Linked DNA regions of Homo sapiens. The protein of the gene in region 1 purifies or fractionates together with the protein of each later gene. This does not show direct contact. Each region holds a gene or a part of one and is shown in the gene's direction. Other genes may lie near its edges. The genes, in order: FSCN1, IMPA2 and RFC4.

Evidence for each region.
Region 2: the proteins of FSCN1 (region 1) and IMPA2 purify together in Homo sapiens (affinity purification with mass spectrometry; 2 studies listed by BioGRID, with this or other methods). This does not show direct contact.
Region 3: the proteins of FSCN1 (region 1) and RFC4 purify together in Homo sapiens (affinity purification with mass spectrometry; 2 studies listed by BioGRID and IntAct, with this or other methods). This does not show direct contact.

The regions. Positions count from the first base shown.
Region 1 is NC_000007.14:5,595,496-5,605,414, forward strand, and holds part of FSCN1 (fascin), read left to right. Parts: intron 1-7,761; coding exon 7,762-7,918; intron 7,919-8,000; coding exon 8,001-8,122; intron 8,123-8,367; coding exon 8,368-8,535; intron 8,536-9,776; coding exon 9,777-9,919. UniProt on the Homo sapiens protein: Actin-binding protein that contains 2 major actin binding sites. Organizes filamentous actin into parallel bundles. Plays a role in the organization of actin filament bundles and the formation of microspikes, membrane ruffles, and stress fibers.
Region 2 is NC_000018.10:11,976,173-11,986,082, forward strand, and holds the start of IMPA2 (inositol monophosphatase 2), read left to right. Parts: upstream 1-5,334; 5' UTR 5,335-5,497; coding exon 5,498-5,593; intron 5,594-9,910. UniProt on the Homo sapiens protein: Phosphatase that can use myo-inositol monophosphates, myo-inositol 1,4-diphosphate, scyllo-inositol-1,4-diphosphate, glucose-1-phosphate, beta-glycerophosphate and 2'-AMP as substrates in vitro.
Region 3 is NC_000003.12:186,794,648-186,804,566, reverse strand, and holds part of RFC4 (replication factor C subunit 4), read left to right. Parts: intron 1-3,371; coding exon 3,372-3,450; intron 3,451-6,952; coding exon 6,953-7,032; intron 7,033-9,789; coding exon 9,790-9,909; intron 9,910-9,919. UniProt on the Homo sapiens protein: Subunit of the replication factor C (RFC) complex which acts during elongation of primed DNA templates by DNA polymerases delta and epsilon, and is necessary for ATP-dependent loading of proliferating cell nuclear antigen (PCNA) onto primed DNA.

The DNA.
Region 1 (9,919 bases):
GACATTACGAAGTGTCAAGGAAAAGGCAGCGGGTACAGGTTATTAGATGGCTGAGTCCTTTCTGAGCAGGACATTTGAGCTGGCCTGAAGGATGAATAGAAGGTGGCAGGTATGGGGGGGGTGCTGTGTGGACCAGCGTTGTAGGCTGTGGGTGTCTCCTGTGCAAAGGTCTTATGGCAGGAAGGTACAGAGAAAGCCCAGTGTGGCTGGGAGGAAGCTTGTGAGGTCTGGGCCACGGGACCTTGGGTGAGAGCTTAGTGCAGGGCTATGGTCCTTGCCTTGGGGTTGCAGCCACAGCCTCCCGTGGGGAAGAAGTCGCAGAAGTAGGTGGCCTTGGCCCTGGGGGCCAGGAAGTTGCAGAGAGCCTGAGGGTGTTTTTGGCGAGCCTGGGCAGATAACTCCCCTCTCCTGAGAAGCTTGCTGGGGGCGTCTGGTGTGTGATTCAGGCTGATAGGGTGGGAGGAACCAGAAATTGCAGCCAGGAGAGGTGGTGGTGATGGCTCAGCTTGGAGTTGAAAGGGATGTGGGACGGCGCGGGGGTGGGGGTACTTGGGGGCCGAGGTTGGGGCTCCTCTGGCCTCAGATCTTGGGGTCCTTATCTCGTTTCTATGTCAGCCAACTCCCGGGGGGCTTTTGGGAACTGGAGTCTGCAGGGGTGGGCGTGGGGGGCGTGTCTGCAGAGGCCATTTTGGACGGGCCTGCGTGGCAAGGGGGAGGCGTCTGCTTCCGACACACATGCTGGGGAACGCCAGCCAGGAAGGGGAGGATCCGGACTTAGCTGGCAGGGGGGATGTGAATCATCTCTGCAGGCCTGCACGGGCGGGCCCGGTGGGGGCAGGGTGCTCCCCTTTGAAAAACGCTGCGCCCTGCTCTTCAGCCTCAGTTTCCCCATCTGTAAAGTGTGCATTCCAGGCCTCCTTGGGCTGGCCCAGAGCTGCCCTGGGCAGGGGCTTTCAGCCCTTCACACCAGAGGCTGGGTCAGCTGAGTGAGTGCTCCTTTGTCCTCCCGCCATGCCCCAGGCTCCTCCCTGCTCCCCAGGATCCACACCTACCCTGGCCCCGACCCTGGGCCATGCCTCACCACACTTCCTGTCTTCTCTCACATCTCTCACATCTGGGAGTCCTCTCCCGCCAGCCTGTGCTTGCATCTGGGGATCCATGCCAGGGATAGGACCTGTCCTCCCTGCTGGCTTGGGACATGCCCTCTCCCAGCCACTCTGAGGAGGGCTGACTGAGGAAGGGCTCGTCAAGCTGGGCTTTGCAGGATGTGTAAGAGTTCTCCCCACGAGGCGCAGGGCATTCTGAGCCCAGGGAATGGCTTGTATAAGGATGCAGAGGCATTTGAAATGGCCAAGTAGTTGCAGGAATCGACTGGAAACCGGGGTGGTAAGGTGAAGCCATAGAACATTCCAGGCCCCCTCCCCTAAATGAGATGGAAGGAGTGCCTGTTTTGAACAAGCCAGGGGCATCTGGGGACCGTTAAGGCCTGGGGGTGGTGATGGGGACTGGAGGGTGTGAGGCAACCAGGGGGTGCCCCTCTGAGCCACCACAGACAGAATGGTTCAGAAGGCCAGGCACACTGGCTCTCGCCTGTAATCCAAGCACTTTGGGAGGCCAAGGAGGGAAGATGGCTTCGGCCAAGGAGGGAAGATGGCTTCAGCCCAGGAGTTCAAGGCCAGCCTGGAAAACATGGCAAAACCTCTGTCTACAAAAAATACAAAAAATTAGCCAGGCATGGTGATGCACGCCTGTCGTCCCAGCTACTCAGGAGGCTTAGATGGGAGGATCACTTGAGCCGGGGAGTTTGAGGCTGCAGTGAGCCGAGATCGTGCCACTGCACTCCAGCCTGGGCAACAGAACGAGACCCTGTCTTAAAAAAATTTTTTTTGGCCTGGTGCGGTGGCTCACGCCTGTAATGCCAGCACTTTGGGAGTCCAAGGTGGGTGGATCACCTGGAGGTCGGGAGTTTGAGACCAGTCTGACCAACATGGAGAAACCCCATCTCTACTAAAAACACAAAAATTAGCCGGGCGTGGTGGCGCATGCCTGTAATCCCAGCTACTCTGGAGGCTGAGGCAGGAGAATCCCTTGAACCCGGGAGGCGGAAGTTGCAGTGAGCCGAGATCGCACCATTGCACTCCAGCCTGGGCAACAAGAGTGAAACTCCATCTCAAAAAACAAAACAAAACAAAAAAAACAACCAAAACAAACAAACAAAAAACTGTAATTAAAATAATTAAAAGAAAAAAGTTAAAAAAAAAAAAAAGAGAGGATGGCTCAAAGGCTGGAAACAGGGAAGGCCACTGTGAGGGGAGGACAGGCAGGGCTAGACCTCTCTGGAAGGAGGAGGGAGAGGTACCCGTGGGCCCGGCACAGGAGACTCTTAATCTCCTGGCTCCCGGGGGCTTCTGTGGGCCTGTGACTCAGGATTTCTGTGCCTCTGTTGATGAAAAGAAAAATCCTGAAGAAAACACTGTTCCCATAGTAACACAGCTCTAATTAGAGACTCCAAGGCCAAGCGAGGGCCTTGGAGCCAGGAGGGGCCCTGCTCTACTGGGGGGACGACACCCCTTTCCCCTATCCCTCCCTGCTGGGGTGTGGCCTGATGTCTACGTGGCACCAGGCCCCTAAATCCTTTCAACATCCTGGCGGAGCGGAGAGGCTGGGCCCTTTTGACAGGTGGGGAAACTGAGGAAGGTTGCAGGGAAGGCACTCATCCAAGGGTGCCTGGCCCCCCGCGGTGGGTGCCTCACTGGCTGGCCTAAACCTTTGCATCAAACCAGTTCCAGGATTGAACGCAACAGGCTGATGGGGACTGAGTCGTGGTACAGATGGCGGCAGTTGTGTGGCCCTGGGCCCAGGAATGGCTGGGAAGCTCCCTTTCTTCTCTGGCTTGGGGGATGAGGTTAGTGTAAATTTCATGGAGTTGCCAGGAGGATTAAGGCCGACGTGCATTCACACGTGGCCCCGTGGCTGCCGCCAGTTAAGCCCTGCGCAGCCATTGGAAGTCTCATTGAGAAGGAGCCTCCCGGCTTCCTGCATTTGTTCCAGGCGGGCTGGTAAGCGCCCTGCTTATTTGCAAGGCTGTGTGAGGACGAGCCCTGTAAACCCTAGGACGAGGCTGTGCTAATGTGGTTTCTGTTCCACTGTCTCCCCTTCTCCTTTTGCCCCTCTTTCTGGGGAACCTGGAGCCCCTGATGCCCTCTGTTTTTTCCTGCTGCTGGGGTGGACCTAGAACCTCTCCCTCCATCCTTTCTGCTGCTGGGGTGGGCCTGCAGGAGGCTGTCCTCTTACCTGGTCCCTAACTTCCCTCCGATCAGCGGGGCTTCAGCGGAGCCCCAGCGCATTGGACAGGTGGTGCTCTGTGGCCGGCACAGGCCAGGGCCCAGGGTGCGGCCCCTGCCTGTAGGTAGACATGCAGGCCCTTCTGAGCAGAATGAGGGGGCGGTGAGGGCAGCTGTGCGGGTGTGGCTGGCCTGACGGCTCCCTGCAGCCCTGCGGCTTCTGTGCAGTGGGGGTGGGGCGGGCCAGACCTTTGCAGGGCCTCTTGGCTGGTGGAGGGCTGAGTGAGCAGAGGCCCCAGCCCTCGTGTTCCCTGGGGTGTGGCCTTAGGATGGTCCCGGCACCCTGGGACCCAGCCCCTGCTCACCTTATCCTCCTCCCGTGCTTGGCTGGGGTGTGGTGGCTGAGCCAGCCCACCCAGTGCGGTGGATGCTCGTCGGAGGGCAGAGGGTGGGCTACCGGCTTAAGGGGCCCCAGGGAACCTGGGGGGTGGAGCCCAAGGGGTTCCAAGAAGGGGCGGGGCCAGGAACCCATAGACAAGAGGGTGGGGCAGGGAAAGGGCGTGGCAAGAGGGCCACCCACCTCCGGTCCAGAGAGCCAGCCAGACCCTTACTTTCTCTTGCTGTGTGACCTTAGGCAAGGACATGCCACCACCGGCCTTAGTCTCCCTCTTTGTGAAGTAGGATGAAGATCCCCACCTGTGGAGCAGATGTGGGGCTGCATGGTTGGGTCAGGATGGAACAGGATGGGGAGGCCGGGCGTGGTGGCTTACCCCTGTAATCCCAGCACTTTGGGAGGCAAAGGTGGGAGGACTGCTTGAGTCCTGGAGTTTGGGCAACATAGCGAGACCACCCCCATCTCTACAAAATAATGTTAAAGTTAGCCAGGTGTAGTGGTGAGTGCCTGTGGTCCCACCTACTGGGGAGACTGAGGCAAGAGGATCCTTTGAGCCCAGGAGGTGGAGGCTGTAGAGAGCCATGCTTGGGCCACTTGCACTCCAGCCTGGGCAACAGAGCAAGACCCTATCTCTAAAAAAAAAATGGAATTGAGGATGTGTCCTCTGGGTGTGGGCTCTACCACCCACCAGCCTCCCTCTCCTGTGGGTGCTGCCTGCCACCCACCGCTGAGGTCCCTGCAGCATCAAGGTGCCCAAACGAAGACACTCTCCAGCTCTGAGCCAGGCACCCATACAGAGCCCGGCAGACGCCTCTGCTGCTGCAGTTCTTAGAATCCAGAGCGCGTGGGGAATGTGAATTTGTGCTGCTGGAGCCAAACATCCCACCTCCAGGTTTTAGCTGGAGGAATCCATGTGGATATGCAAAGCAATGTAGTTATAATGAATAGCAATTGTGGGCTGGGCGCAGTGGCTCATACCTGTAATCCCAGCACTTTGGGAGGCTGAGGTGGGTGGATCACCTGAGGTCAGGAGTTTGAGACCGGCCTGGCCAACATAATGAAACTCCGTCTCTACTAAAAATACAAAAAAATTAGCCGGGCATAGTGGCGGGTGCCTGTAATCCCAGCTACTCAGGAGGCTGAGGCAGGAGAATCACTTGAACCCAGGAGGCAGAGGTTTCAGTGAGGCGAGATCGTGCCATTGCACTCCAGCCCGGGAGACACAGCGAGACTCTCTTTCTCAAAAAAAGAATAGCAGCTTTGCTATAGCTTAGGGGAGCAAAACCCGAAAGCCACCTTAAGTTTCCCGAAGATAGAGATCCCTGGGGTCCTATTCTGAGACAGAGTCTTGCTCTGTCGCCCAGGCTGGAGTGCAGTGGCGGATCTCAGCTCACTGCAGCCTCCGCCTCCTGGGTTCAAGCAATTCTCCTGCGTCAGCCTCCCGAGCAGCTGGGATTACAGGCGCCCGGCACCACCCCCAGCTAATTTTTTTTTTTTTGAGACAGAGTCTCGCATTGTCGCCCAGGCTGGAGTGCAGTGGCGCGATCTTGGCTCACTGCAAGCTCCACCTCCCGGGTTCACGCCATTCTCCTGCCTCAGCCTCCCGAGTAGCAGGGACTACAGGCGCCCGCCACCGTGCCCGGCTAATTTTTTTTTTTTGTATTATTAATAGAGACGGGTTTCACCGTGTTAGGATGATCTCGATCTCCTGACCTCGTGATCCGCCTGCCTCGGCCTCCCAAAGTGCTGGGATTACAGGCATGAGCCACCTTGCCTGGTCCTTTTTTTTGTATTTTTAGTAGAGATGAGGTTTCACCATGTTGGCCAGGCTGGTCTCAAACTCCTGACCTCATGATCCGCCCGCCTCGGCCTCCCAAAGTGCTGGGATTACAGGTGTGGGCCACTGTGCCCGGCCAGTCCCATTCTACTTTTTAGGGACATGGAATCATGTAAAGATGCCATACAGAAAACAGTATGCAAATCCAGAGACAGAGGACATCTGTGCATGTTTCTTTCTTTCTTCCTTTTTTTTTTTTTTTTTTTTTTTGAGATGGATTCTTGCTCTGTCGCCCAGGCTGGAGTGCAGTGGTGCAATCTCAGCTCACTGCAACCTCTGCCTCCCAGGTTCAAGTGATTCTCCTGCCTCAGACTTCCAAGTAGCTGGGATTACAGGCATGCCCCACCATGCCCAGCTAATTTTTGTATTTTTAGTAGAGGCGGGGTTTCACCATGTTGGCAAGGCTGGTCTTGAACTCATGACCTCAGGTGATCCACCCGCCTCAGCTTCCCAAAGTGCTGGGATTACAGGCGTGAGCCGCCGTGGCAACCCGCATGCTTCTTATGTATAAGAAAAAAACAGCTAGAAAGTTGTGGGTTCACTGGCTGGGCACATGGTGGCTTGTGTCTGTAACCTCAGCACTTTGGGAGGCTGAGTTAGGAGGATCATGTGAGGCCGGGAGTTCAAGACCATCCTAGGCAACATAGCCAGACCCTGTCTGTACCAAATAGAAAAAAAAATTAACTTGATGTGGTGGTGTGTGCCTGTAGTCTCAGCTATTTGGGAGGCTGAGGTGGGAGGATCACTTGAGCCCAGGAAGTCGAGGCTACAGTGAGCTATGATTGTGCCACTGCACTCCAACCTGGGCAACAGAGCAAGACCCTGAATCAAAAAGAAAGAGATGTATTTGCCAACACAGGGGTGTTCTGCAGTGGGGTGGGAAGGGGACGTGTAGGACTTCATAGTTTCCTTTTTTTTGTTTTAGAGACAGGGCTTAAAAAAAAATTTTTTTTTTTTTTTTGAGGCGGAATTTCATTCTTGTTGCCCAGGCTGGAGTGATCTCGGCTCACTGCCATCTCCGCCTCCCAGGTTGAAGTGATTCTCCTGCCTCAGCCTCAGGCAATTTTGTATTTTTAGTAGAGACGGGGTGACTCCATGTTGGTCAGGCTGGTCTCAAACTCCCGACCTCGGGTGATCTGCCTGCCTTGGCCTCCCAAACTGCTGGGATTACAGGTGTGAGCCACTGTGCCTGGCCCCTTTTTTTTTTTTTTAAGTAGGGTCTTGCTAAGTTGTCCAGGCTGGTCTTGAACTCCTGGTCTCAAATGATCCTCCTGACTTGGCCTCCCAAAAGGCTGGGATTGCAGGAGATATGAGCCACCGCACCCGGCCCTTTTATAAGTTTTCTAAAGGAAAGGAACATGTACCATCGTGTTTTATTTTAATTTTTACATAGAAGCAGGAACAATAGCATGAACCCCCAGACACGGCCCCCCAAGATGCGCTGTTCCGCTGTGCTGCAGCCCCATTTGTCCTTTTCTATACCATTTTTGGTTGTATTTGAAGCAAATCCCTGACATCAGGGCATTTCATCCCAAAATACTTCCATCTGTGTTTCTAAAAAAACGAGGCCATTTTCTTATGTAACCACAACGTGATCAACAGTAATCAATGCTTAACATCTAATTCTGGGCCACGTTAAGACCCTCCTGATTGGCTCAAGAATGTCTTTTGTGCAGTTGGTTTCTTGATTCTTTTTGTTTTTTTTGAGACAGGGTCTCACTGTGTCACCCAGGCTGGAGTGCAGTGGTGCAATCACGGCTCACTGCAGCCTCAGCCTCCTGCCTCAGCGATCCTCCTGCCTCAGCCTCCCAAGTAGCTGGGACCACAGGTTTGCACCACCACTCCCAGCTAATTAAAAAAAGTAATTTGTAGAGACGGGGGTGGGGTGGGGGTCTTGCTATGTTGCCCAGGCTGGTCTCAAACTCCTAGACTCAAACAATCCTCCTGCCTTGGCCTCCCAAAGTGTTGCGATCACAGGCATGAGCCCCTGTCCCTGGCCCCTATTATTTCTCTAACTGGGGAAAGTCATGTGGGAACAGATGTAGCTTGCCTTGGCCTCTGACCGGCCCTGCCTGCGTTCCTGGGTGCTCTCTGCTGCTTCTCATGTGTGCCACTGTGGGGACTCGGCCGCCCACCCCACCCCGTGGTGTTACCTTGCGTGTGTAGTTCTGTGAGCTCAGGGCTATGGTCTGCCAGAACTAGGGGGCGTGGGGCCCCAGTACCAGCCCAAGGCCTCCTCTCTGCAGGTATGGACCTGTCTGCCAATCAGGACGAGGAGACCGACCAGGAGACCTTCCAGCTGGAGATCGACCGCGACACCAAAAAGTGTGCCTTCCGTACCCACACGGGCAAGTACTGGACGCTGACGGCCACCGGGGGCGTGCAGTCCACCGCCTCCAGCAAGTGAGTGCCTCGCTCCCACCTGTCACCGCCCCCACCACCTTGCCTGGGCTACCCCGCCTGACCCTGTCCCGCCATCCCCCAGGAATGCCAGCTGCTACTTTGACATCGAGTGGCGTGACCGGCGCATCACACTGAGGGCGTCCAATGGCAAGTTTGTGACCTCCAAGAAGAATGGGCAGCTGGCCGCCTCGGTGGAGACAGCAGGTAACACTAAAGCCCCAGTTCCCTGGAGCCGTCCTGGAGTCCTGGAGGGTCTGGCCATGCCGTGGTCACTTGGTAGCCCCAGCCAAGGCCTGCTCTGTGCTGGGCATCCCCCCGGACTGGCCCCGCACTGTCCTACCCTGGGGACTGCTGTGTGACCCCAGCTCCTGGCCCTCCCTCTCTGGTCACCCCAGCCTCCACCCCACTCCCTGCCAGGAGGCTCACTGACTCCCCTCTTTCTGGGACAGGGGACTCAGAGCTCTTCCTCATGAAGCTCATCAACCGCCCCATCATCGTGTTCCGCGGGGAGCATGGCTTCATCGGCTGCCGCAAGGTCACGGGCACCCTGGACGCCAACCGCTCCAGCTATGACGTCTTCCAGCTGGAGTTCAACGATGGCGCCTACAACATCAAAGGCAGGTTCTCCTGTGGGCAGCTGCTGGGCAGGGAACCCCTCGGTCGGGGCTGGGGTCAGTGCTGCGGGGAGCGCCCTCTGCATCCACACTGGACCCTGGCTTGGCTCAGGGCCATTCCAGGCCCTAAAGGGACAGGTGTCTGATGGCCACCAGGGGCTCTGGGATGCAAGCAGCCCCTTTCCCTCTTGTCTGTGTGGTTGGGGGGACTTACCTTGCCCACCTGACAGAGAGGTGTGTGGAGGGGAGAGCAGGGAGGGGAAGGAGAGCAGGGAAGGGGAGGGAGGAGAGCAGGGGAGGGGAGAGCCGGGAAGGAGAGGAGAGCAGGGGTGGGGAGGTTCTGGAAAGGGTGTGCAGGGGAGGACGCGCCTCGGTTATGGGACTGGAGCCCCTTCCCAGGAGGACCCCCAACAATCCAGAGGTGCCTGTTAGGATTCAGAACATGGTTTTTTTGTTTGTTTTTTTGAGACTCACTCCCTCACCCTGGCTGGACTGCAGTGGCGTTATCTCGGCTCACTGCAACCTCTGCCTCCTGGGTTCAAGTGATTCTCCTGCCTCAGCCTCCCAAGTAGCTGGGATTACAGGTGTGCACCACCACGCCTGGCTAATTTTTATATTTTTAAAATTTATTATTTATTTATTTTGAGACCCAGTCTGGAGTGCAGTGGCGTTATCTCGGCTCTCTGCAACCTCTGCCTCCTGGGTTCAAGCGATTCTCCTGCCTCAGCCTCCCGAGTAGCTGGGACTATGTGTGGGAGCCACCATGCCTGGCTAATTTTTTTGTATTTTTCATAGAGACGGGTTTCACCATGTTGTCCAGGCTGGTCTTGAATTCGTGGCCTCAAGTGATCCGCCCACCTCAGCCTCCCACAGTGCTGGGTTTATAGGTGTGAGCCACCACACCCGGCTAATTGTTTTGTATTTTTAGTAGAGACGGAGCTTCACTATGTTGGCAAGGCTGGCTCGAACTCCTGACCTCAAGTGATCCGCCCACCTCAGCCTCCCAAAGTGCTGGGATTACAGGCGTGAGCCACTGCGGCCGAGCAGAACACGTTCTAGGACCCTTGTTCATGTGTCCATCATGGACAGGAGGACGTGCGGGCCATAGGGACCCTGGCTCATTCCGGAGCCGGGACTGGAGGGTGGGGCGTCACCCTTGGGAACACCCGTGCCCACCCTCCGCTGCCCAGGGTAGGGGTGGGGAGCCAGGCTTTGGGCCCCACTTGATAAAGTCCCCTCCCCAGACTCCACAGGCAAATACTGGACGGTGGGCAGTGACTCCGCGGTCACCAGCAGCGGCGACACTCCTGTGGACTTCTTCTTCGAGTTCTGCGACTATAACAAGGTGGCCATCAAGGTGGGCGGGCGCTACCTGAAGGGCGACCAC
Region 2 (9,910 bases), on another chromosome or scaffold:
TATATAAATTTGGGAGCAGGGAGTGGGGTGGTACAATTCAGCTTCTAATGTCAATATTCCACACTTCGGTTTAAGGATGGTCAGACATTATTCTCAACCAACTTCTAGGGATTTAGATGAGCTAAAACAAAAAAGCTCCTCAAATGTCCAAGTCAGCATGTCTTGGCCCTGGAGAATAAGATTAGACTTTTTTTTTTTTTTGAGACGGAGTCTTGCTCTGTTGCCCAGGCTGGAGTACAATGGCACAGTCTCAGTTCACTGCAACCTCCGCCTCCCGGGTTCAAGCGATGCTCCTGACTCAGCCTCTGGAGTACCTGGGGTTACAGGCGCCTGCCACCATGCCTGGCTAAGTTTTGCATTTTTATAGACACAGGATTTCACCATGTTGGCCAGGCTGGTCTCGAACTGCTGACCTCGTGATCCACAAGGCTCAGTCTCCCAAAGTGCTGGGATAACAGGCATGAGCCACCTCACCGGCCGAGATAAGATCAGATTTCAAGGTAACCTGGGGAAGCTGGAGAAGTGGATGGAAGAAAAGAACACTACCTGACATTTTGTTTATTTAGACTCTGCTTTCTTCCATAAAGAACATGAGGGGAGGGAACTCCCAGATTAATAAGGACATAAAGTCTGTCCTGACTGTCCTTTCACCTTCTCACTGCCACTGCCCTGGCTTCTTGGGCCCTGACCCAGGCACTGTGCATGTGGCCTTCTGGTGACCAGAGCCTCACCAGAAGGACTGTGCCCTAGGGTGGGGGGTGGGGAGGGGTAGTTAAGATACAGTTTTTCAAGGCAGAGTGCAGTACGCTAGGGGCTTAAGGAAAGTTCATGTGGCTTCCAGGGCCTCTGAAGGAGACAGTGTGCAGACTGTGGTGGAGGCCAGCTGGGGAAGAATATTTTACATCTCCACAGAGAGTCATCATTGACGCATGAGTGATACGCATTATTCATTAGAAAAAGCTGATTTCTGCCGGGTGTGGTGGCTGACTTCTGTAATCCTAGCACTCTCGGAGGCCAAGGCGGGGTGGGGAGGGGGTGGGGATCTTTTGAGCCCAGGAGTTCGAGACCAGCCTGAGTAACAAGGATGACACCCCATCTCTTCCAAAAAAAAAATGAAAATTAGCTGGGTAATTTAGGAGTCTTCCTAAGGATATAATAAATATATGTCTTTTTTCTTAGGCAGCAGATGGTGGCCAGCTGTTCTCTTATTACTGATGACCAAACATGAAGAAAAAAAATTGTAGTAAGGGGGCTTATAATAAATATAAGACAGAACTTAATAAACTAAATCTGGATTTTTATACACACAAAGGAAAATGGGCGGCTCTGGAAAATTATCAAATTATCCAAGCCAAAATAGCTTCTCCATTATCTATGTAACAAAACATTATTTATGTGGATTGAATTGTACAAATAATTGTCTAATATTTTGGGTCTCTGAGTAGACAATCTGGGTGGTCAATGATACAGATTGAGGGCCCTTCAAGGAATATTTTAGAATGGGAAAAGCGTTGATGCTCTTTGCCATTTGACTGGGGGCATTTCTACTGAGATGCAGGTGATATTGATCACATTTGTAGATACACGATTCTTTGACCAGGATTTGGGCCCGTTACAGTAAAATCGTAACAATTTTTGCTTAATGTTTGAAATCAACTTTTAATTGCAAAAATAATGCACTCTTTCCTCTAAATTTTCTTTTCTTTCTTCTTTTTTTTTTTCCGAGAAGGAGTCTCGCTCAGTCACCCAGGCTGCAGTGCAGTGGCGCAATCTCGGCTCACTGCAAGCTCAGCCTCCGGGGTTCACGCCATTCTCCTGCCTCAGCCTCCCGAGTAGCTGGGACTACAGGCGCCCTCCACCACGCCCAGCTAATTTTTTGTATTTTTAGTAGAGACGGGGTTTCACTGTGTTAGCCAGGATGGTCCTGATCTCCTGACCTCGGGATCCGCCCGCCTCGGCCTCCCAAAGTGCGGGGATTACAGGCTTGAGCCACCGCGCCCGGCCACTTTCCTCTACATTTTCTTTTCTTTCTTTCTTTCTTTTTTTTTTTTTTTTTTTTTTTTTTGATACGTAGTCTCGCTCTGTAGCCCAGGCTGGAGTGCAGTGGCGCAATCTCGGCTCACTGCAAGCTCTGCCTCCCGGGTTCACGCCATTCTCCTGAGTCAGCCTCCCCACAGCTGGGGACTACAGGCACACGCTGCCACGCCCGGCTAATTTTTGTATTTTTAGTAGAGACGGGGTTTCACAGTGTTAGCCAGGATGGTCTCGATCTCCTGACCTTGTGATCCGCCCACCTCGGCCTCCCAAAGTGCTGGGATTACAGGCGTGAACCACCGCGCCCGGCCATTTTTTTGTATTTTTAGTACAGACAGGGTTTCACCATGTTAGCCAGGATGGTCTCCATCTCCTGACGTCGTGATCCGCCTACCTTTGTCTCCTAAAGTGTTGGGATTACAGGCGTGAGCCACCGCGCTTGGCCTATTTTTATTTTTTGAGATAGAGTCTTGCTCGTGTCACCCAGGCTGGAGTGCAGTGGTGCAATCTTGGCTCACTGCTACCTTGGCCTCCAGGGTTCAAGCAATTCTCCTGCCTCAGACTCCTGAGCAGCTGGGACTACAGGCACATGCCACGATGCCTGCCTAATTTTGTTTATTTTTGGTAGAGGATAGGTTTCACCATGTTGCCCAGGCTGGTCTTGAACTCCTGACCTCAGATGATCCTCCTACCTCGGCCTCCCAAAGTTCTGGGATTACAGGCGTGAGCCACCACACCTGGCCGAACAGATATTTATTAAACACCTATTGGGTGCCAAGCGGTATGCTGATTGCTTGAGGCTACCCACACTGGTGCATAAATGACCAGTCTTTAATAATAATAGCAAACACATACGTTCCAAGCACAAGTACATTAACCCATACAATGGTTACAAAGACCACTTTACAGTTGAAGAAACAGGCAAAACCGGTTATTTTTAACTTGCTCAAATCCACACAGTAAGGAAGAAGAGAGGCCAATATTTTAATTTAGGAAACCTGGCTGCTTCAAAGCCTCATGCTGTTAAAAACCACACTACGCTGCCTTAAGATATGTCATTTGGGAAAGAAAGTTAACTCTTTTTCCAGTTGTTTAGATAAGCTGGGATCTATCATGAAAGTTTATCTAAAGATATAACTGAGCTTCCAGATGGGGTGACAGTACCAGGAGCACAGGCAGAGGTGTTCAGAAAGGAGAACTGGGAAGAGGCGGAAGAGACATTTTGCCACTTCTTTGTTTGCTTGGTGTTGGAAGTGACCGCTAATGAAAACCTGTCATGAAAATCAACAAGAGAATGCATTTCTTTTAAAGTAACGCATTCACAGCACAATCTTAAGTGCATTCTGAAGTCCTGCTGTCTTTTTTTTTTTTTTTTTTTTTTTGCGACGGAGTCTCACTCTGTCGCCAGGCTGGAGCGCAGTGGCGCCATCTCGGCTCACTGCAACCTCAGCCTCCCAGGTTCAAGGGATTCTCCTGTCTCAGCCTCCCGAGTAGCTGGGATTACAGACACCTGCCATCACGCCCAACTAATTTTTGTATTTTTAGTAGAGACGGGGTTTCACCTTGTTGGTCAGGCTGGTCTCGATCTCTTGACCTCGTGATCCGCCCGCCTCGGCATCCCAAAGTGCTGGGATTACAGGCGTGAGCCACCGCACCCGGCCTCTGTCTTAAACATCATAAAAACATAAGAACCCAAAAAAGATGGAGGGGAGTGCGCCCTTAGCTGCCCCAAACTGGCGTGGTGGGAGGCAGGGCAATTGGTCTAGTTTTCTGAGCCGTAGGATTAGGGCTCTGGGTGAGGCCAGAGTCCCTAAAGTTGTACCCATATCTGCGTGTTTGTATTTCCTGTTTGTAATTCCTCCTGTTTGTACTTTTTGTCTCTTATACGGTACACTTAAAGTTTCTCCACAAGGTGTTTCAGCATAAAGTACTCAAAAACTAAAAACGTTTAATTTCATTATTAGGTTAAGTGTGTAAAAAATGCCCCATCAAGGTTCTTGTACAAACTCCCATTATTCTCCCAGACTCCGAAGTGGCACTCCAGAATAATTTTACGTGGGTTAGCATCTTTTATAAAACGGGCAGGCAGAGCGGCTTATGAAATTAACCTTGGAAACCACGCGGCCACTCTTTCGGGAAATGCCTCCTATTTATGTTTACATGGGCCAGCAAGAGAATCCAAGGTTGGAAAGGTCATTCCTCACTACAGAGGCTCATCGCAATCACAGTTCCGTCTCCAAATTCGAGTTTTGGGTGTGAAGAGTTTATAAAGTCCAGCCGCTGTCCTCGCAGTGTTTGGGGTTAGCGGAGGGAGAGCTTGTTTGCGACCAAACTTGCCGCGCGGGGCGGCCGCTTGCAGGAACACTGCGGCCTTGTGCGCTCGGCGGTCTGAGCTCCTGCGAGGCCGAGAACGACGCCTAGCGCCCAGCGGCCTCCGCGAACAAAAAGCGACCGGTCGGAAGGTGCTGGCCCAGCCGCCCCTGGCGCTCGAGCCCGAATCCGGCCACAGACCATGAAGGGACGCCCGGCACCACGTGCGCGGGGATCCGCGGACGGGACGCTCCCCGGCACCTCCGGGGCTGGGCCGGCACCGCACGGTCCCACCCAGACAGTAGCTGCCCCGGGCCCCCAAAACAGCCGCTCCTAGCTCCTCCCTCCCAGCTCTGCGGTGGCCCAAGCCGCCCTCCGCGCGCTTGACCCAGAACAGTACGGAGTTCTGCACGAGCCGGGGGTGGGGCCTGTCTCAGCGCGCGGCGGTGGGGCGGGGCTTGGACACGGGCCCGGCTCAACTTGAGGGAGGCGGGGCTCGAGGCTCAGAGGAGTTGGAGCCCGCTCTGCGCGCTGCGGGACGGGGCACGGCGGAGCAGGGTTGGGTCCGCCTCGAGCGGGGAGGGTGATGCTGCACCACAGGGGCGGGGCTGGAGGTAAAGCGCGGAGCGGAGAGGGACCAGGCTCGGCACTGATTTGTGTTCAGGGCTAGCCCAGAGGGGCGGGGCCAGGTACGGGGCGCAGCCGGGAGCGGGAGGGGCGGTGCAGGACGGGGCCGGGCACGGCGCGGGAAGAGGCCAGGAGCAGCAACGGGTGCGGGGCGGGGCCGGGAGCGTCAAGGGGCGGGGAAGAGGGGGGAATGGGCGGGGCCGAGCTCTGCGAGGGGCGAGGTGGGGAATGCAGAGCGGGGCCGGACGCGGGAGCAGGGAGCTGGGCGGGGAGCGGGGCGGGGAGCTGGGCTGGGCTCGGCACGGGGCGGGGCGGAGGGTGGGGAGCGGAAAGCAGGACGCACGGCTCCCGCGGCCCGCTGGCTGCCCTTCCCGCCAGCGCAGGTGTGGGACGGGCGGCGGACTAGGCACAGAGCTGCGGGAGCAGGCACAGGGAGTGTGGAGCCTGGCGGCGGGACGGCGGGATCCGGTGGGAGCCGGAGTCCCGCCGAGGGGGGCTGGAGGTGGAGGGGCCCGGCGAGGCCGCGATGAAGCCGAGCGGCGAGGACCAGGCGGCGCTGGCGGCCGGCCCCTGGGAGGAGTGCTTCCAGGCGGCCGTGCAGCTGGCGCTGCGGGCAGGACAGGTGAGCGCCACGGCTGGGCTCGGAAGTCCGGGCGGAGCAGAAGCGCGTGGGCCTTGGGAGCCGCCTGGAGTGGCGGGGTCCTGGCGCGCAGCCGGCGGGCGCCCAGGGTCCGCACCCGAGGGCGCGGGGCGCGGAGCGGTGAAAGGAGCCTTTGTGCTGGTGTCCTGGACACACCTCCCGCGCCCTTCTCCAACTCCCGGAGCCCTGGCGGCGAGCCCCTCTGCTTTGGAGTTCAGCGGCTAACGTGACCTTTGCGTTTGAGTGAGTGGTCAGAATGTAGAAATCTCTCCAGGGGTAGCGTACGGGGCTGTTGATTTTTAAGGACCTATGAACGGATTCAGCTCGCGGTAGGAAGCCCGGGGCTAAGCCCCAGCCGCGTGGGGATCTGGCTGGGCTGCCGTTTGATTGTCCTGGCTGCAGCATCCTCAACCCAAACTTACTCTGACCCACACCCTGAAAGTGGCTCAGCTCCGCGACGGCCACGGACTCAGAGTTCAGGAGGAACTTGTTACACTGCCCGGAAGGATGAAAACCGAGCCGCAGAGCTACCGAAAACCAGCGAGCAGAGTTTAAAATGGAGTGCAGTTCCTCTCTTCTCTTTTTCATTTTTGTGATTGTTCCTTCCACTTTCCTCAGTACCTTTAGCAGTGCCTGACACACCGACGGTAGTGGTAGGCAAGCGAGTGTTGGTTCTCCCAGGACTGTAAGATGGCTTACTCCATGTTTGTCTCTTAGGATGTGATTGTGGGCCGGGCGCAGTGGCTCACGCCTGTAATCCCAGCACTTTGGGAGGCCGAGGCGGGTGGACCACTTGAGGTCAGGAGTTCGAGACCAGCCTGACCAACATGGTGAAACCCCGTCTCTACTGAAAATACAAAATTAGCTGGGCATGGTGGCGCGTGCCTTAGTTCCAGCTATTTGGGAGGCTGAGGCAGGAGAATCACTTGAACCTGGGAGGCGAAGGTTGCAGTGAGCTGAGATCGCGCCATTGCACACCAGCCTGGGCAACAAGAACAAAACTCCGTCTCAAAAAAAAAAAAAAAAAGTGATTGTTTTCGGGGATTTTAGAGACAGGAGGTGTGCTGAGAGCAGATTGGCCTTTTATATTCAAACATTTGTTTTCTTTTTTGAGGTCTGACAGTCCGAAAATGCTCTACCAGTTTCCCTAGATGTTGAAATCGGACTGTTATCAATCTTAAATTTGAAGTGAGTCGTCATAAAGTGGATAGTGCTTTACCTTGGTGCAAATCCTCTAATCCTGTTTAAAAATTAATCTGCAATACTAAGTAGACTCATTTTTTGTTGAAGGGCCTTCCTTCCCTTTGTAGTTTGAAGAACCCAAGCCTCAGACCGTAAAGAATGAATGAATTTAAGAGTGTTGCGAAACTCCACCCTTTGACCTTTCCCTCCTGTAGGAAAAGGAGGACCCTAAACCTTCCTGCAAGGCAGATGAAGCTTGTAGCTTCAGTGCAAGCGTTCTTCCTGGAAAGCAGAGCTGCTGTGTGCATGGAACACGGGTTCTCCTTCCATCCTTCCCTGCCTCCCAGCTTTCCTTCCAGAGCAAGCATCAGCCAGATATTTAGGAACTTTTAGGTTCTACTGTAAAACTTTTCTTCCTTGAGGCAGTGAAAAGCCAGCTTAGGATTCAGACATTGCTGTGTAAACCCTGGCGAGCTAAGTTAGGAGTTTCTGTGGTTTTCAAATTTAGATCCTTGAAGAAACAGAAGATTTTAAAATTTTATGTTATTATTTAACAAATGTGCATAAAGAGCTTGCAATAGAGCAGGAACAGTTCTAAGGCTCCTATGACTTTTAACTTAAGAGATATTTTATGTTTTTGCAACTTGCCAGCAACAAAAAAAGCTTTTTTTAAACGCTGGAGAGGGTTGCAATAAAGATGCTGCCATTAGGAGTCCGGTCAGGAAGCCCGGGCCGCCCGGGGCTCCCCCTCAGGCATTATGCTGATGCTTCCTGCCTGCCGGGCAGTGCTGAGGGAATGGCCTGAAGGTCTGCTGCTGGGACAAACAGAAGCCACACGAGGTCATCGGAACCTGTGTAAAGAGGGACAGATTGTCTTCTAATGCAATCGGGGGCTGACTGGAGAAAACATATCCTTTAGCCAGATGACCTGGTTCGGGGTGTAAAGGTCGTGAGTGGTGATCCTTTTGGAGTTCTCCTTAGTGAAGAGCATGTTGGCAAAGTCGCAGGGCCCCCAGATGCTCACCCTTCACTAGCACCCAGCATTCTACCACTCTGTTGTTCGCTGCTCTCAGCTGCCCCTGAGATGGAGTCTGTGTTCTAGATGCGGAAAGGTGAGGGAGCCGAAGGAGAGACCTTCCAAGAGATAAAGGTGCACTGTCCTTTCTCTCTTAGACTGGTTCCGCTCAAGGTGGCCCTGGAGAAACTGCTTCCATTTCCCCTCTGCCCCAGTTCTGGCAGGCTTCCCTGTCCCAGGCTCCCAATTCCCTCACCTGCCCCCTCCATGCTTCTGTGCCACTCTTCCTTCCGTGACCGTGGGGATCATCCCTGCCCTCCTAGTTCCAGCCACCCACACTGTGACGGGAGCCTCCTCCCTGGCTGTTGGGCTTTTGGGGAGGGAGTGACCACAGCCCCACCCCAAGTACAGATGACAGTATTCACTGATGTGGATGGTTGTCATCTTTTGTGTGATGTGTGAACAGAAGTATTGTAGACAGCTCTGCCTTTCAAATCCCCCCGCGGAGCTGAACCAGCTTCTGTTGGGCCAGAAACTTAGACAATTTAGGGGGCCCTCTTTAAGAAAATACAAACTTTGCCAGATGTGGTGGCTGAAGCCTGTAATCCCAGCACTTTGGGAGGCTGAGGCTTGTGGATCACCTGAGGTCGGGAATTTGAGACCAATATAGTGAAACCCCATCTCTACTAAAAATACAAAAACTGTGGCCGGGCGCGGTGGCTCACGCCTGTAATCCCAGCACTTTGGGAGGCCGAGGTGGGCAGATCACAAGGTCAGGAGATCAAGACCATCCTGGCTAACACGGTGAAACCTCGTCTCTACTAAAAAATACAAAAAATTAGCCGGGCGTGGTGGCGGGCGCCTGTAGTCCCAGCTACTCAGGAGGCTGAGGCAGGAGAATGGCGTGAACCCGGGAGGCGGAGTTTGCAGTGAGTAGAGATCGTGCCACTGCACTCCAGCCTGAGCGACAGAGCAAGACTCCGTCTCAAAAAAAAAAAAAAAAAACAACAAAAATCAGTCGAGCGTGGTGGCACACGCCTGTAATCCCTGCTACTAAGGAGGCTGAGGCAGGAGAATCCCTAGAACCTGGGATGTGGAGGATGCAGTGGTGAGCCTAGGTTGCACCACTGCACTCCAGCCTGGGTGATAAGAGCGAAACTCTGTCTCAAAAAAAAAAAAAAAAAAAAAAGAGAAAATACAAAATTACAAATTCAAACTTAGATATAAAAGTTATTTAGAATAAGAACAATCACATCTATAAATTTCTAAGGTGCTAAGAAATACTGCAAATATCACGAAATACACAAAAATAACAATTCTTTCACTGCTTCTCATACTTCCGTAATACTTTTTGCCCTTTTTCTGGTTTCATACTGTTTGCATCTTTTGAATGATAATGATTTTGTAATACTTTATATGGGGAGAATAGAAAGATAAATTCAGCATTTCCTGTTGCTTGGCTTATTGAAATTTATTACTGATAATTTAGAAAATTTAGGCTTCAAACTTGTTACTGGTAACAATTGGCTTATAAATTTTTAGGATGTCATCAAATTGAGAACCTTCTATGAATTTTTTTATACATTAGTTGTAAGTGAGTCTGTTTTTCACAGACTTGCTCCTGGCTCTGTGCAGTTGAAATCTGGTTTATTTTTGTGATCCACACATTTTCAGTGCCAGTGTCTGTGTCCACCTCATGTGCTCCTCTGGTCCTGTATGTTTTTGTCACCATGCCAGGTGGGTCGGCGTGATGGACAGGGGAGTATGCCTGGAAGCCCTTTCTACACTGGATGGCTCTCAGTAACTTACAGAGAAATGTGACTGCAAACCCTATTGAAGCAAAGTTAGTTCATCTACTCAGCTTATCTTTAGCCCACACTGGCTGTATCCACGCCAGTGCCACCTGATGCAAAGTCTGATGGAAGGACAGTTTAAGTGGAAAGGCACAAGGTTAGATCTACAGTCAAAACAGCTGACTTTTGCCCATTACAAAAGGGGTTTGTGTACGGCTTTGTGAACACTTTGTTAGGGTCCCTTGCAGGCAAGTGGGGGCCTTGATGCTTAAGCGTCATTAGCTTCACAGGAAATTCATCTCTGTTTAC
Region 3 (9,919 bases), on another chromosome or scaffold:
CTTTGTTAAAATAATTCATAAATTATCTCTCTAACCAGTACTGATCACTTTTTTTTTTTTTTAACTTATGGAGGAATGCTTTGTTCTGTTTAGAAGTTGTCTTTGAAAAAAAATCACCCACTTATATAAGTCATAGAACCCTGGAACTAAAGTTACCTGAGAATAATCTAGTTTAACTCCCTTATTTTGTAGATAAACTGAGATCTCTACAAGCAGAGGCTTCCATTTTAGGGGCTGGGATACAGAAGTGAAGAAAACAAAAGTTTCTGTAAACTGGCTATAAATACTAGGTCAGGAGTTCTACTTAAATCCAAATATGTAATCTGTTCCTCCTTCTTCTCATTACAATAGGTGGAAAGTATTATTATTATTATTACTATTTTTGAGACGGAGTCTCACTCTGTTGCCCAGGCTGGCGTGCAGTGGCATGGTCTCGACTCACTGCAACCTCCACCTCCTGGGTTCAGGTGATTATCCTGCCTCAGCCTCCCAAATAGTAGGGATTACAGGTGCCCACCACCACACCTGGCTAATTTTTTGTATTTTTAGTAGAGACGGGGTTTCACCATGTTGGTCAGGTCGATCGCAAACTCCTGACCTCAAGTGATCCACCTGCCTTGGCTTCCCAAAGTGCTGGGATTACATGCATGAGCCACCGCGCCCAGCCCTGGAAATTCAGTTTTGGTTAGCTCATACATTTTTGTCCAAACAACACTTGAATTAGCATTTAAATTGTCAGTCACCACCTGGCATGGTGGCTCATGCCTATAATCCTGTATGTAATCCCAGCAATTTGGGAGGCCAAGGTGGGAGGATCACTTGAGGCCAGGAGTTCCAGACCAGCCTGGCCAACATGTCGAAACCCCCTCTTTACTGGGAAAAAAAAAAAAAAAAAATTAGCCAGGCATGTTGGCGGGCACCTGTAATCCCAGCTACTTGGGAGGCTGAGGCACGAGAATCACTTGAACCTGGGAGGCAGAAATTGCAGTGAGCTGAGATCACACCACTGCATTCCAGCCTGGGTGACAGAACGAGACTCTGTCTCAAATAAATAAATAAAATTGTCAGTCATCTAAGTGATATTACCACAAGTAATTGTAACTATTGGTTGAATGTAGCCTCGGTAATTACCAATGTTTACAGATTACTTATAGGCCGAGTAAGGCCCTCATATGTTTTTTGTGTTTTTGTTTTTTGCTTGCCTTTTTGTTTGTTTGTTTTTTTGGGACAGATTCTCACTTTGTCACCCAGGCTGGAGTGCAGTGGCGCAATGTCAGCTCACTGCAACCTCTGCCTCCCAGGTTCAAGTGATTCTCCTGCCTCAGCCTCCCGAGTAGCTGGGATTACAGACATGCCCCACCACACTCAGCTAATTTTTGTATTTTTAATAGAGACAAGGTTTCATCGTGTTGACCAGGCTGGTCTTCAACTCCTGATCTCAGGTGATCTGCCTGCCTTGGCCTCCCAAAGTGCTGGGATTACAGGCGTGAGTCACTGCGCCCAGCCCCTTATATGTTTTGTTTGGCACCAATAAACCTCATGAAAATCTAGATTTTTTTAATTATGTGGAGGAGGGTCTGGATTTTCAGCTTCTCAGGAGATCAGGCAACACTGGGGGCAGGTTCTCACATGACAGGAGTTATATGGACTTGTGTACTGCTTCTCCTTTTGGAAAGGTCGTGTGTTCCTCAATTTGCCATGGTCCCTACTATATCTTGCATCACACTCTGCCTTCCTCACTCTTGTTATCTGCTTAATCTCTGCAGGTATTTGAATATGAGTCCCTGCTTTATAACATATACTGGATTCCCAAGAGAAGACATTAAAAAAAAAAATCATAATTCCTACCTAGTGTTAACCTGATTTATCGAAAAGTATGGATCAAAGAACTTTTGATTAGTTAACTAAGCACAAAGCCTAAGCTTAGAGTTGGAAGTGTAACTTTGTTCTAGCTTCTCTTAAAAATCACTGTTGTAAGATGAAAATTATATATGATACTTCATATTGGTTCAGCTTGTTGTTTTTGTTAGCCCTCAATGAATTGAATAGGTCTTCATTTTTTTATGCAGTTAGATGATGGAAAAAATTGGCATTAACCAGTTAACACATACTAAGTATATATGTAACTACATTAACCAAAATAGTTACCTATACTAAGGTTACTAAATGGTTTTCCCTTTTCATCTTAAGATTCATGATCTTATTTTGTCAAAGTGGAACAATGCTTTTTTTTTTTCTTTTGAGACAGAGTCTTGCTCTGTCGCCCAGGCTGAAGTGCAGTGGTGCGATCTTGGCTCACTGCAACTTCTGCCTCCTGGGTTCAAATGGGACTACAGGCATGTGCCACCACGCCCACCTAATTTTTTTTGTATTTTTAATACAGACGGGGTTTCACCATGTTGACCAGGCTGGTCTCAAACTCCTGATCTCAGGTGATCTGCCTCCCAAAGTGCTGGGATTACAGGCGTGAGCCACCGCATCCGGCCAATAATAATGCTTTCTAAGCAGGTGTTCACTTTAATTTTTTTTTTTTTTTTTTTTTTGAGATAAAGTTTCGCTCTTGTGACCCAGGTTGGAGTGCAATGATACGATCTCGGCTCACCACAACCTCTGCCTCCAGGGTTCAAGCGCTTCTCCTTCCTCAGCCTCCCGAGTAGCTGGCATTACAGGCATGCACCACCATGCCCGGCTAATTTTATATTTTTAGTAGAGACAGTGTTTCTCCGTGTTGGTCAGGCTGGTCTTGAACTCCTGACCTCAGGTGATCCACCTGCTTCAGCCTCCCTAAGTGTTGGGATTAGTGTGAGCCATCGCACCCAGCCCCACTTTAATTTCTTTTTTTTTTTTTTTTTTTTTGAGACAGAGTCTCCCTCTGTCACCCAGGCTGGAGTGCAGTGGTGCGATCTCAGCTCACTGCAAGCTCTGCCTCCCAGGTTCGTGCCGTTCTCCTGCCTCAGCCTCCCAAGTAGCTGGGACTACAGGCGCTCACCACCACGCCTGGCTAATTTTTTGTGTTTTTAGTAGAGACGGGGTTTCACTGTGTTAGCCAGGATGGTCTTAATCCCCCACTTTAATTTCTAATTAGTGTTTGTAGCATATAAAATAAAATCCTTTTTCTTTAATTTTTGTGGGTATAACAGATTCGAGCAATGCAGAAAGGAAGTAAAACATTATTTCACTCTTTCAGAATGTGTTTGGTTACGGTAAAAACAAGTGGGGTTTCCACCTATTTCCGATTATGAAAAAGTTTCTCATTTCATTGCTGATGTTTAAGAATGGTCATTGGTATTTTAGTAGAAGGAACACTTGAGAGTTTTCTGTGGCTACTATAATATACTAAATAACCTCTTTCCTCCTTCTCACCCCGCAAGTCGCCCAAAATGTGTGGATGAAGTTGCTTTCCAGGAAGAAGTGGTTGCAGTGCTGAAAAAATCTTTAGAAGGAGCAGATGTGAGTTGCAAATGGTGTTTAATGTCATTGGGATATTTAAGACTTAATTTATTCACCCTCTTTCTTCCTTTATAACTTCTAGCCCTCGTTAAATATCTTGCTCTGTGTACAGTAGGTCCTTGATAACTATTTGTACAATGATAATTAGTTCAAATATTTATTGAGCATCTCCTATTTAATCTTACATAGCAGTGTTACCTAGTATTCAAGTAAAAGTCATAGTAATTAAGACAAACTATGAAACATAGACATAGAACAAGACATAAAACATAGAACAAGACAAACTATGCCCCTTTTTTCATGGGTTTTTATTGGTAAGGAAAGATAGAATAAACAAGTAAACCAATAAATAATTATAGGTAGTAATATGTGCTATAAAGAAGAGCCAGAGATTCCTCTAAAGTATAATTGCTTACTAACTTTAGGATTTGGATTGACCTATAATACAAAAAAAAAATCGAGCTTTGAATTCTGCTTATAGCTCTCTCTTCTGCTGTGATCTGGGGGATAAAGTATCCATGGATAACTTGCATTGTAAATTATTCTGAGATAAGATAAACCCATGTGAAAAATTAGCAACTTAAAGTTGTGTTATGATGAATGCCCAAAGTGCTTTAACAGCTCAGTAAAGTGCTGAAGTGGGATGTGGTTTTTGCTTTAGTTTCAAGATTTGCTTCCTTCCTCTCAATCTGGCTGCTTTTAATTAGAAGTTCTTTTGGGTTTTGCTGCCATCATTCCCTTGCTGAAATTATATTACTACAGTACACATTTTGAAAGAAGTTAAATTTATAAAACTATTTAGAATCTTTTTCTTTACCAGTATGTGTTTTGATTTGACTCGCATACTCTTATACCTTTTTGGCCGGCCACAGTGGCTCACGCCTGTAATCCTAGCGTTTCGGGAGGCTGAGATGGGAAGATCACTTGAGGTCAGGAGTTCAAGACCAGCCTGGCCAACATGGTGAAACCCCATCTCTACCAAAAATTAGAAAAAGTAGCCAGGCGTGGTGGCACACACCTGTAGTCCCAGCTACTCAGGAGGCTAAAGCGGGAGAATCATTTGAACCTGGGAGGCGGAGGGGTTGCAGTGAGCCAAGATTGTGCCACTGTACTCCAGCCTGGGTGACAGAGTGAGACTCTGGTCTCAAAAATAAATAAATAAATAAGTAATAAAAAATAAATAACACAAATACTCTTATACCTTTTAATTTTATAATAGTATAGCATTTTATTTTTTGGTATATTCTGCTTGCATATCTTGGTAACAGTATATACCATTTTAATTGCAGTTGCATAGTAATTACACAGATTGCAGGACAATATCTAATTTAATTACTAGTATCTTCAGCAAATGTAGTGAGATTAAGATCCAGTTCTTTTGTTTTTTTGTTTTTTTTTGTAATTGAGACAGAGTCTTGCTCTGTCACGCAGGCTGGAGTGCAGTGGCGTGATACCAGCTCACTGCAACCTCCGCCTCCCAGGCTCAAGTGATCCTCCCACCTCAGCCTCCCAAGTAGCTGGGACTACAGGCATGCACCACCACACACAGCTCATTTTTGTATTTTTAGTAGAGATGGTGTTTAGCCATGTCAAGTGACCTGCCCGCTTTGGCCACCTAAAATGCTGGGATTACAGGCATGAGCCATCATGCCCAGCCTAAGATCTAGTTCTTGACTTTATGCCACGTAATTTATGAGGCTGAAGTAAGAACTTCAGTTTAATATTTTGTGCACCTTTTCAGACTAAGTTTTGTAAAGAGGTGAAATAGTTTTTTTAATTCAAAAGAGTAAAGGAAAACAATTCATTCAATTTATTTTGAAAGGTTTTAAAGAATTATAAGAAGATAATTTTTTCAGAAATTGATTTTAAGAACTGGTATTCCACATACAGTTCTTGAATGTACTACATATATTAGACTAGTGTATAATTAAGGTTTAATAATTTTACCCTGTTTCAAAGAATTTAAATTATTGTATCTGATAGTTAACCTGGATGAATCGTTACATTGTTAAGGGATGCACAGATCAAAATAATAGTTGTAGACCTTAATTACTAAGAAGCCTGGGAGGTTTTTAAGTTATGAATCTCATAGTTTGTTCTGTAAGCTATATGTTATGAATGTAACAGTAATAGTCTTCTAATTAACATATTTGTCTATGTATTGGTTTATTCATTCATTTGGCCAACATTGACTACTGTAGTAGATGCTAGAATACAGATGTGAATAGAACAAATAAGGTTCTTGGTCTTTTAATGAAGTAGACAGGCATTTTACAATTAAGCCCCACAGTGAAATAACAATAAACCAATGCAAAATGCAACAAACACTAATGAGAGAATAGGAGAGGAGACCTACTTTAGACTGAATGGTTTCTGATTTGTAATGCATTAGGAGTTGGCCAGGCAGAAAGAAGAGGATCAGACTCCAGGTCATGGGAGCAACATATGTTCGGGCCAGAAAGTGCCAAGCTGTTAGAAGCCATTGTAAGCTAGAGCCTGGAAGGTGAAGGAGGTGGTAGGCAGATCATGGAAGTCCTTTAGGCCATGGTAAAAAGCTGAGGGTTTTTTGGTTTGTTTTTGTTTTTCTAAGTGGAATAGTTTTAAGTAGCAAGCAGAGTGGTATCTGATTTAGGTGAAGAATGAATGGACAGGAAGAGGGAGGGTTAGGCAAGAGTGGAAACAAACTCTAATGCCTAGTTTCCTGTGTACACTGATTTCCTTATGTGACAGGACATACTGAAGATTGCACAGTATCATAACAGAGCTCATTAGAATTTAGTTGACTTATTAATTTTCACCACGGATCAGTCGACTGCTTGATAGGAGCCAAACTAGCTAGATACAAGGTATAAAAGAAGGTAGCTAGTGATTTAATTTTATCCTTTCCTCTTCTAATGAATTCTCCCTGATACATGCAAGCATCCTTACAGAGTGCATAATCATGATGTGGAGCAGTGCCTAGTACTTAATATATATCTAGTTTTGGATTTTTTGTTAATATTTCTGTTCTTGGTACTTCTGCTCATCCAAAGCCCTAATTATGTCTTTTTTAGTCCTTTTTCCTCAGTTTTGGCCAAATCCCATTACTCTTTTGGTCTGCTTCCCCTTTGAAGCAGCTGACATTTTGTGTAATATAAAATCTTACCTAATCTTGAGCATAGAGGTGGGATAGGAAACTGAGATTCCCTTTAGAAATAAAAGGTTTCTCATTCCAGCTTTGAAAATTTCACCTAAGTGGATTAGCTATAGAGCAAGCATAAATATTGGTTCAGCTTAAGAGATTAAAAAGACACTTGGGGAAAAAAGTGGTAGTATATGAAAAAGCAGGATTTAAATCTGTCAGTACTATGATATCAGTTATATTAAGAAAACTTTATACTTAGAAATTACGTGCCCTATTAGAGAAGTCATTGCACTATTCCACAGACATTTTTTTCGATCTTCCTTTTCATCTATTTGTGCCAGAATACCATTTATTAAAAATAAAATTTAATTTCTACAGCTTCCTAATCTCTTGTTTTACGGACCACCTGGAACTGGAAAAACATCCACTATTTTGGCAGCAGCTAGAGAACTCTTTGGGTACGTTGAAATCAGTCTGTTTTTCTTTTTTTAAAGATTTGACACCAAAATTCTCTGATATTGCTTTTTTTCCTCTAAAAATTTGCGTTTCGTTTTCTGTAGGATAGTTTTCTATTTCTGATTTTTAAAAATCCCATGAGCCATTTTGTTCCTCCCTCACTCCCCTGAAGAAATCAGCTTGCCTGCGTCTTTTGTGACCTTCATTGTGAATCTTGTTCAAGTGTGGGGAGCCTATGATTTTTTCCATCACTTTCTTTAAATTTTCCATTATAACTTTGGAGTCCAGAGGGCCCAACTTAATGTCCAGTTGTGCTGATAGTTTTATCACCCTCTTAATGATTGTGTTCACATCTGTGTGGCTACATGATAGAATCTGCTGTTTCTGATGGCACTATTTGCACCATCCATTCTTGAGTCCTGCTCTGGACTTCCTAGGCTCTGACTCTGGAGTGGCCAGTCCAGCTCCTTGCCTCAGGTCTCCTGAGCACAAGTGATGGTTGATGTAGTGTGATTCCAGGTACACCAGAAAATCTTCCTGTGAGTCACCTTCTTATGTTCCTCTTCCTAGATTGACCATCTTGGCTTAACCAGCCATTCTAGAGGAGCCCTTTACCTAGAGTTAAAAGATGTGTAGTGGGCTGGGTCTGATATACATGAAACATGCACCAACATAACAAAGGCTGTTTTGAGTTTATCCAGAATTAATATCAGACATACAACTGATAGAAATATCTGAAATCCTACATATGAAAATAGGCTGGGTGTGGTGGCTCACATCTGTAATCCCAGCACTTTGGGAGGCCGAGGCAGGTGGATCACCTGGGGTGAGGAGTTCGAAACCAGCCTGGCCAACATGGTGAAACCCCATCTCTACTAAAAATACAAAAATTTGCCAGGCATGGTGGCATGCACCTGTAGTCCCAGCTACTCGGCAGGCTGAGGCAGGAGAATCACTTGAACCTGGGAGGCAGAGGTTGCAGTGAGCCGAGATCACGCCACTGCACTCCAGCCTGGGTGACAGAGCGAGACTCCGTCTCAAAAAAAAAAAGACGCCACTGAAATCACCAAATGTGTAAGGATTATTAGTTATGTCAAAATGTAAAAGACAAAGGGAGAAGCTGCTATGTGCCTAATATTTTATTTGACAGCAATTTTTTATTCTCAGTAAAATTATAGAAGAACTTTTTTGATTATTCCACAACTCAATCAGATAGAACCAATCTGAATCAGCCTTAACAGTTGTTTATTATTACTTAGAGTAGGTCAGTCCAGATTATACAACTTTTTCTATATCCTTTATGAAATAATGTTTGTCTTTAAAGAACTTACTTTAACAGTGAATTTCATATTTAATATTGTGGCTTTAAAATAGAAAATAGATGCATGTAAATGTTTATGTCCATAAACATGCTTAGGATACCATGCTGATTAGGAAAAATAGAGATGAAACTAAATCACAACTCTTGTTTTTTATTTAAATGTGTGTGTGTGTGTGTGTGTGTGTGTGTAAAAGACTAGAGGGAAGTTTCAAAAACAGTGCTTTGACAGTGTGCCCACTTTTTTCTTTTGATTTCTCAAATTTCTCTACAGTAAGCATATATTACTTTTAGTAATTTTTATTAAAACTCACTTTAAAAACCTGCTCATGTTTTAATCCATTAATTTTCCTTAATCCAGTAGGTTTCCTTATAGCAAACTACCCTGTGGAATTTATTTATTTATTTGTTTATTTATTTATTTTTGAGACAGTGTCTCGCTCTATTGCCCAGGCTGGAGTGCAGTGGTGCGATCTCGGCTCACTGCAACCTCCACATCCCGGGTTCAAGCAATCCTCCTGCCTCAGCCTCCTGAGTAGCTGGCACTACAGGTGCCTGTAACCACGCCCAGCTAATTTTTGTATTTTTAGTAGAGACAGGGTTTCACCACGTTGGTCAGGCTGGTCTCGAACTCCTGACCTCGTGATCCACCCGCCTCGGCCTCCCAAAGTGCTGGGATTACAGGCATGAGCCACCACATCCGGCCGGAAATAATTTAAAATGTGCTATATTATAACATTATTTAAAATTACAGTATTTAAAACTATCTAGATGTCTAACAATAGAAGAATGTGAAGTAAATGATGGTACAGTCATAGGATGGAATATCATATGACTATTAAAATGTTATTTACAGTGGTTTTGATAATATGCCAAGATACTTATTATAAATGCAAAGTGGAAAATCGATTTAAAATTTTATATGTGGGGCCAGGTGTGGTGCCTCACACCTGTAATCCCAACATTTTGGGAGGCCAAGGTGGAAGGATCACCTGAGACCAGCCTGGCCACATAATGAGTCCCTGCCTCTACAAAAAGTAAACAAAATTAGCCAGGTGTGATGGCATGTGCCTATAGTCCCAGCTAGTTGGGAAGCTAAGGTGGGAGGATCATTTGAGCCCAGGAGTTCAAGGCTGCAGTGAGCCATCATCATGCCACTGTTCTCCAGCCTGAGTGACAGAGCAAGACCTTGTCTCCAAAAAAATAAAAAGAAAAGAAATTGTATATGTTATGTAATGTCTACATTTTTTTAAATGCATGGAAAAAAGCCAAAATGTTAACTGCAGCACTCTGCTGAAGCGAGAATGCAAAAGTGATTGTGTGCCTTCTATCCATGTTGTTTACTAGGTGGATTTTAAACGTCTGCAAAGTGTGCAAATGTTAAAATGTGATTTAAGCCTACTTGTGCTCTATGTTTCATATTTGTTTCATTTTGAGATAGGCCTGAACTTTTCCGATTAAGAGTTCTTGAGTTAAATGCATCTGATGAACGTGGAATACAAGTAGTTCGAGAGAAAGTGAAAAATTTTGCTCAATTAACTGTGTCAGGAAGTCGCTCAGAGTAAGTAAAT